2 linked regions of the Homo sapiens genome follow. The protein of the gene in region 1 interacts with the protein of each later gene in a biochemical or structural test. Each region holds a gene or a part of one and is shown on either strand. Other genes may lie near its edges.

Region 1 (4,235 bases):
CAAGCCGGCAATACTTGACAAAAATATCTACCATTTAAGCACAGAGCCAAAAGCAAGGAGTAGTCTCCTGGGCGCTGGAAGTATTTTGAAATCCCCAAAGTCTCATTCATTGATCAGAAAACAAAATGGAATTACTTTTTTTTTGCTCCCTCCTCCCCTCCATGCAGTAGCTGTTCTTGGCGGGTGCCCAGAGCGGCACCCGGTAATTCCACGGTACATTGTGTACATTTACATCTGTTTAATCGGCTATTTACAGTCGCCCTTTACCGCCACCTGTAAGAGGCAGCGCCATAACGACACTAAGTGGCCGGGCCGGAAGCCGGGTGCCCAATGGTTTTCTCCACTTGAGGACGCCTGAATCTGTGAAGTGGTTGGCACTTGGAGAAACAGAGAGACAGCTGGGGACATCACACGTACAGGGCGGGAGGCGCGGGAAAGAGGCGCGCCAGACGGAGGGTCCTTCCTTCCTCGTTAGCTCCACTCGGCGGCTCCTTTTCCATTACCACAGCAGCAAGGAGGAACCTGCCGAGCCTTCGGTGCGGCTTGTTTCCTGCCTGACAGAGAGCCCGCTGCCATTTGGATTTGATGAATTTCTGAATCACCCGAGGGCCTGGCGACCCGAAGGAGGGCGGGGAGTGGGGGCGCTGGGGTGGACCCGCCATCCTGCGGAATCCGGGCCAGATAACAGCCCCCGAGCTGGGGAAATCGGCTTGCGGATGTGATGCGGGACCGCGAGGACACCTGCGCTCCCTTGCGTGTCGCACTCGTGCAGCTCCCGGTGGCGACGGGGTGATGTGGGGGCGAGGGTGAGAGGAAGTCCAGGCGCCAGAGCGTCAGAAACGCTTCCTTAGCTTCCCTGGCACTTTGGAGGTTGTCTCGAGGGAACACGGACAGTGCACGACGGACTTTCAAGTTGCTCCCGGCACAACGGGAGGTCGGGAGCTCGGAGCCCCTACGGGCGGTCCAAGTGTCCGCGAGAAGCCCGCAGCGCCCAGGACCGCGTTGAGCGCTCGGGGCGCGCCAAGCCGCACCTAAGCAAAAGAGAAACGCTGACGGGCCGGAGGCGGGTTGGCTGGGACGCGGAATACGCGCGGCCCCGGAGCGCCTTTCGTTTTAAGGAGCCTTACTTCTGGAAAGGGACAGGGAACTGTCAATCAGCGAGGGAGGGAGCGCACCGGCGCTGGGTGATGTCAGCGGATCAGCTGCTCGATAACAAAGAGAGGGTATTACAGGAGAAAGTTGCAGCAGCGGCAGCGGCCAAGGCGGCACACCGGAGCCTCCGAGGCGAGGGGCAAGTGGGCGAAGGGAGGGGGGACGACGGCTGCTGCCGCAGCAGCTGAAGGCCAAGGAATTGAAAGGGCTGTAGGGGGAGGCAGTGCGAGCCAGCCCCGACTGCTCCTCCTCTTCCTCCTCCTCCTCCAAACTCGCGAGCCCCAGAGCTCGCTCAGCCGCCGGGAGCACCCAGAGGGACGGGAGGCAGCCGCGCAGCCCCGAGCTGGGCAGTGTCCCCAGCCGCCATGGATAGCGACGACGAGATGGTGGAGGAGGCGGTGGAAGGTACAAGCATTTCTCCGGGGCCGGGGGAGGAGGCGCAGAGGGCCTGGAGCGCGGAAGGAGTGGCGGGCTGCGAACAGCGCGGCGCCGGGCCCCGCGGCCGCCACTGTCCCCTACACGGGTGGCCGGTTGCCCGGCTCGGGCGGGGGCCCGACAGCCACGGTCACGCCGCCGGGAGCGCGCACTGCGCGGCGGGGCGCAGGCCGAGAATGGGGCTCCGCCAGGCCGGGGGCGCTGGAAACGCACGGCCGCTCCATCCCGCCCGGCCACAGCCTGCATCCACCCTCGGAGTTGCGAAACCTGCCCCGCGCTCTGGCCTTTCCGCCTTTGGGCGCGGAGGGTGGGTGCACTCCGCAGGGCAGCCCCTTGAGGCCGGCGGACTCCGCGGAGCAATCCCCTAGCCCAGTTTTGGCCACCCCGATCCCCTCCCGGCCGCCAGCCCTTCCCTTCTGCTGCCTCTGCGCCCCGCGGCGGCCGCGGCCCCGTCCGGGTAGGTCCCCCGGCGCAGCGCACGGGGCCAGACCAGGCACGTGGCAGCCGCGGCCCAGGCGGCAGCTCTTCCGAAAAGATGAAATCATTGTCGGGCGACGGACAAGTCTCCCGACCCGGGACTCGAACGTGCGCCGTCCGGGAGGCGGGCAGCCCTCCCCTCAGCTGCCCCCGAGCGAACTCAGTCAGGCCTCCCCCTCCCCCTTCCTGCTTGGCTGGGATGCAGCCGCCACGCTGTGCAGGCGCGCCGCGAGTCCGCACCGAGATTGCTGGGTGACACTTAACTTTCTGAATTCCATGCCGTTGGCTGTGGGTGATATCACCGCCTCAGTGTCGTGTTTCTCCGCCCCTTCTCTTCTACCGCCCCTCCCCCGACTTTTCTCGCCACTTTGTTTTGCTGAGTTTCTCCACCTTTTTTTTTTTTTTTTTGTTAGTTCTGAAAAAACGATGTGGGGACGTTATACAATCTCGTTGTTTGTATCATAGGATGTTATGATTTTGTAACAGCGAATACTGGAAAATACTCTTTAGCGTATTTATTTGGTTCCACTCCATACAGTACGTCGTGATGTTTTTCAGTGTGGTGTGGTATGATACCAGAATGTTTTAAACTAAGCATGTGAGTAAATAATTTTTAGCTGTTGGTTGAATCTGGTTTCTGTCTGATTTGTATAAACACAAGTTCTGACGAAGGATAAAGAAAAAAAGTGGCGACACTACAAATGCATAAGGATACATGGTTATTGTTACACTAGGGAAAAATCAGTTTTAATGTTTTCATAAACATAACTCCCTTTGCAGTGCTTCTGAGATCTTAAGGGGAGATTAAGCAGACTAATATTTCTGAACTCTTGAAAAGTATCCAATGTAATGCCAATATTAAAACTTATTTCTTCATCTAACTTCGAAGCCAATTAAAGACTGTGGTTTTTGTTAAGAAAATTTTCACCATGTTGTGAACTCACAGAGCTATTTATCTCTCTAATAAATAAAGCCAATGTTGGGGCTTACTGGAGTGAGGCCCAGATACATTGATTGAGTTGATCCACAGGGAGCCTTCTGAGAAGTTAAAAGTTGTTGACTTCTTGTGCCTCCATGTTGTGAAAGATAAAGGAAAAATGATCTCAGATTGTTAGGGCTTGCTCTCTTTCTTCAACGTTTACTTTTACTTGTAAAAATTAAATACAAACCCTTAATTGCTGGTACTGTTCTCCATGTTAAACCACATCCATTCCCCTTTGAAGCTGTTTACAAACATATGTCCAGTTGTCCATAGTCCTCAGGCTCCTTTGCAGACTGTGACCAAGAGCTTTAGAAATGGCAGTATTGTTTTTTGAGAACATCCACTGGATTCGAAAACAGGGAAGTTCATATAAACAGGGATGGTTTTGTTTTATAGGGTAATTATGTACATTATTGTCCAAAATCAGAACCCCCTTGAGAATGAGAGGGCACACTATTAATAATGATGCTGGGGCAGGTAGCTTAAGCCTTGAATGTCTGGGGCAATCTGGGACACATGGTCACTCAGTTGTAGCTAACTAAACAATTAGAGCAGCACAGAATCTTTAAAAGCCCCTAGAAGCATCTCAGGCTCTAACTTGCACAGTGCCAGGAGTGTGTGTGTGCACATGCAGTAAACCGTACCTGTGCGTGCACTCTTGTCCAGCCATTCTTGGCCTTTTTAGTGCTGTTTGCAATAGTCTTTACATAACATCTAACACTTACATAGGGGACTGGTATAAACTGCTTCTGTTCTTTCCCAAAGAGAAGCTAGTCTGAATATCTTAGTGTTTAAGTACCAACTAATCTACCTCTTTCCATAAACAGAGCCTCTGTTCTCAGTAGTTTCATTGTCATAGCTATTATTATCATTGCTATAATTGTTTAGTTCTTATTAAGTGCAGGCTCTGTGCTAAGTGTTTCACAGACATTATCCATTCAGTCTTATTCAGTCTTATGAGGTGGGTACTAATATTATCCTAATTTTACAGAGGCGGGAACTGAGGCATACAGAAGTTAAGGACTAATCCAAGAACACTCAGTGAGGTGGAGAGACTGGCTTGGACTTCCAAAACAGCCCTCCACCAGACCAAACTGTCTTCCTACATTTTTTATTTTTAATGAGTTAGTCAAATTTATGAAACACTTGATAACTGAGTTTGGAAGCAACAGTTAAATATTATGTCAGT
Region 2 (3,500 bases), on another chromosome or scaffold:
CACATGTGGACACACTGGGGCGTGTCTGCAGTGCACACACAGAGGTGTATGTTCACCTTCATTCCCCGGTACATGCACACACACATGCTCACACACATTCACCCCCGGTACACACGTGTGGGTGTAGGCTGCATGCACATACACACCACACAGACTCCTTCCCTTCCTGGCTTGCTCAGCCTCCTAGCGGTAGCCAGACCCCAGAGCTAGAAGCTTCTGGAGACAGAGGAGAGGGGTATAAATTAAATGTTTCCAAACAGGCTGGGAGGACGGCCAGGGACAGGGGGCTCCAGGGCTGCAGAGACAAGGTGAGCATCTCTGGAAACCCTGGTCCCTCCAAGCCCTGTCAGAAATCCAGGGGGGTGAGGTCCCCAAAGTCACAGTCGAAGAGGTCTCTGATGCCCTCGCCCTCCTCGAGGCCGAAGTGGTAGTCGAGGGCCTCGTGGGGTGGGGAAAGGCTGATGAACTCCTCAGGGAGGAGGCCGGAGAAGTCCTCCCGCACATGCTCCAGGAGCGAGTCGGCCGCCACCAGCGGGGACAGGCGGTCCTCGTCCACGGGAGCCCGCAGGCTGCCCATCCGGGACAACAGCGGTTCTGGGGAGACGGGGAGCATCACAGGCCGGGGATGCCCCAGCAGGGAGGAAGGCAGGGGCTGTCGTGCCTGCCCACCCCCCAGAAGAGGGGCCCTGCCCCACCCCACCCACCTACCCATCACCCACCTTGCTCCAGGCTGAGTAGAGACTGGCTGGGATCTGTGGTGAGGGATGAGGGGGGAGATGATGGTGGTGGTGACACTATGGTGGCAGAGTCAGTGGCCCTGTTCTCCTCCTCAGAAGTGACCTCCTGGGATGGGGTCTTCCCAGGGCTGATCCCACCTACGGTCTCCTCAGGGCACAGGAAAACATCGATCGGGCCTTGTTTGCTCTTAAGGGAGATCTGAAAGTTCTGGGTGGAAGCAGCAGGCAGGGTAAACTGAGGCCCAGGTGACCACCAGCCCAGCCCAGCCCAGCCCAGTTGGGCCCGGAGTTCCCAGATCTCACCTCCGAAGAGTCCACGGCTTGGAGCTGGGTCTCAGGAGGGGCTTTGATCACCATAACCATCTGCTCTGCAGGGTCTGCAATGCTACGAAGGTCCTGACACGTCACGTAGGCCAGGGTTGGCAGAGTCAAGGACCACATGACCTTTGACTTCTAGGGGGTCACTCACTCCAACAGCTCACAAGGCAGGGCTCACACCTGCCTAGTCACTCCTGTCCTCCCAACCTCCTACCCACTCAAAACCTACCTCACGCCTGAGTTTCAAGTTCCACATCTGTATAATGAAATCACTCTACCCATTGAATCCCAAGGTAATAATGGCTACCGGGAACGATTCCATGTAAAATGTTCAACACAACTCCAGGCCTGGTGCTGGGAATTTATTTTTTAGAGGCAGGGTCTCGCTATGTCACCCAGGCTGGAGTGATGTGGCTCAACCAGAGCTCACTGCAGCCTCAAACTCCTGGGCTCAAGTGATCCTCCCACCTCAGCCTCTTGAAGCACTAGGATTACAGGCATGAACCACCGCACCTAGCCACTTTTCTTTTTTAATCTGTACAATTTCAGAATTGGATATTATTATTCCCCTTTTATAGATAAAACTGAGGCCAAGAGGTTAAGCAATTTATCCAGTGTCACAACAGTGAGAAAATGCTGAGCCAGGACTTGCAACCAAAATCAGAGCTCTCTCTTAAATCCAAGCCTCTCTAGTCCCACTTGGGTGGAGCCCCTGCCTGCTAAGCCTGCCTTCCACACCCTACGGCCAATCCAAGGATATCGCTGGCTGTCAGTGTCCTCGGAGAGCAGGCGCAGCTGCGTAGTACAGATATTCATCAGGTGGTCCAGCTGCTGCTCGCTCTCCTGCAGCTGTCGGAGGTCCTGGGTCAACCCCTCAAGCCGTCCGCCGACGCCCACTGTGGTGTGGCTGCCCCTGTGGGGAGGCACCAGGGAGGGTAGGGTTAACAGCGATTGGCCCCTCTGGCCAGGAGCCCTGGGCCTCAGGACAGAGTCTGCTGTTGCCTCTGTTCTGTGAGGCCTAGGCAAGCCCTTGCTTCTGTCTGGGTCTGGCTCCTCAGCTGGGCTCCAAATCAGAGTGTCATGGGCTTGAAGTCTGGCCCGAATATAAACACCTACATGTCCCTCAACCAGGGCGGGATAAACAAATGATGGGACTGACATGCCACGAAATATTACACATGCACACACACATGCATTTCCAAGACATGCTGTCAAATGAAAAAAAAAAAAAGGCTGGGCTTGGTGGCTTATACCTATAATCCCAGCACTTTGGGGGGCTGAGGCCAGAGGATTGCTTGAGCCTCAGGAGTTTGAGACCAGCCTGGGCAACACAGTGAGACTCTGCCTCTACACAAAATCAAAGACATTAGCCAGACATGGTGGCATGTACTTGTAGTCCTAGCTACAGGTACGGAGCTTGAGCCCAGGAGGTTGAGGCTGCAGTGAGCTGTATTTGTGCCTCCATACTCCAGCCTGGGCGACAGAGCAACACCCTGTCTCAAACCACCCCCCTCCACCCAAAAAACCACAAAAGATGCAGAATGGAACGATCTACCAAAAAATGAAACGGCAGGTGTATCAAAGAAAGGGTAGTAGCATGATGACTGGCGCGAAGGCGAGAGGGGGAAAATAAAACAAGAATAAAATATCTATGCCAGACAGATCTCACCGAGGGCATGAGAAGCCAGGATAGTGGTGACCTGGCGGTGTGAGGGGTTGGCAATGACTGGAAAGGGGCACAAGAGAACCTTCTAGGGTGTTGAAAATGCTCTTATCTTGATCTGAATGGTGGCAACCCAGATGAATAAATATATAAAGCTGCGCGGGGCGCAGTGGCTCATGCCTGTAATCCCAGCACTTTGGGAGGCTGAGGCAGGCAGATCACCTGAGATCAGGAGTTCGAGACCAGACTGGCCAACATGGTGAAACCCCATTTCTACTACAAATACAAAAAGTAGCTGGGCATGGTGGCAGGCGCCTGTATCCCCAGCTATTCAGGAGGCTGAGGCAGGAGAAGCACCTGAACCTGGGAGGTAGAGGTTACAGTGAGCTGAGATTACACCACTGCACTCCAGCCTGGGTGACAGAGTGAAACTCCATCTAAAAAAGAAAAAAGTAAAGCTGCAACTGAGGTGGATATGTAAGATTTGTGTGCTTTTTACCATCTATCATCTCAGGGAAGCTACCTCTCCTCTCTGAGCCCGTTTCCCCAGCTATAAGATGGGGATGCAGGCAGCCACAGTGGGTATTACTACCAGCTCCTCCAGGCTGGCATGGGCAGGTGTGCCTGCCCTCCTGTGTGGCCGGTACCTACAGCCACTGGATGTGGTTCTTGGACTTCTTGGCAATGAGCTGGATGCCCTCAAGGACGTTGGTGATGTCATAGATGCGCCGCTTCTGCACCTTCAGCACCTCGGCAGCCCAGTTCAGGTCGACGACACCGTC

Evidence for each region. Proteins that work in one complex are often made in the same cells at the same time.
Region 2: of the proteins of SETD7 (region 1) and E2F1, one has a biochemical effect on the other in vitro, tested with the Homo sapiens proteins (3 studies listed by BioGRID).

What each region holds. Positions count from the first base shown.
Region 1 is NC_000004.12:139,553,420-139,557,654, reverse strand, and holds the start of SETD7 (histone-lysine N-methyltransferase SETD7), read left to right. Parts: upstream 1-1,435; 5' UTR 1,436-1,517; coding exon 1,518-1,557; intron 1,558-4,235. UniProt on the Homo sapiens protein: Histone methyltransferase that specifically monomethylates 'Lys-4' of histone H3. H3 'Lys-4' methylation represents a specific tag for epigenetic transcriptional activation.
Region 2 is NC_000020.11:33,676,386-33,679,885, forward strand, and holds part of E2F1 (transcription factor E2F1), read right to left. Parts: coding exon 3,370-3,500; intron 1,969-3,369; coding exon 1,816-1,968; intron 1,157-1,815; coding exon of another isoform or gene 1,156-1,156; coding exon 1,041-1,155; intron 946-1,040; coding exon 720-945; intron 595-719; coding exon 347-594; 3' UTR 1-346. UniProt on the Homo sapiens protein: Transcription activator that binds DNA cooperatively with DP proteins through the E2 recognition site, 5'-TTTC[CG]CGC-3' found in the promoter region of a number of genes whose products are involved in cell cycle regulation or in DNA replication.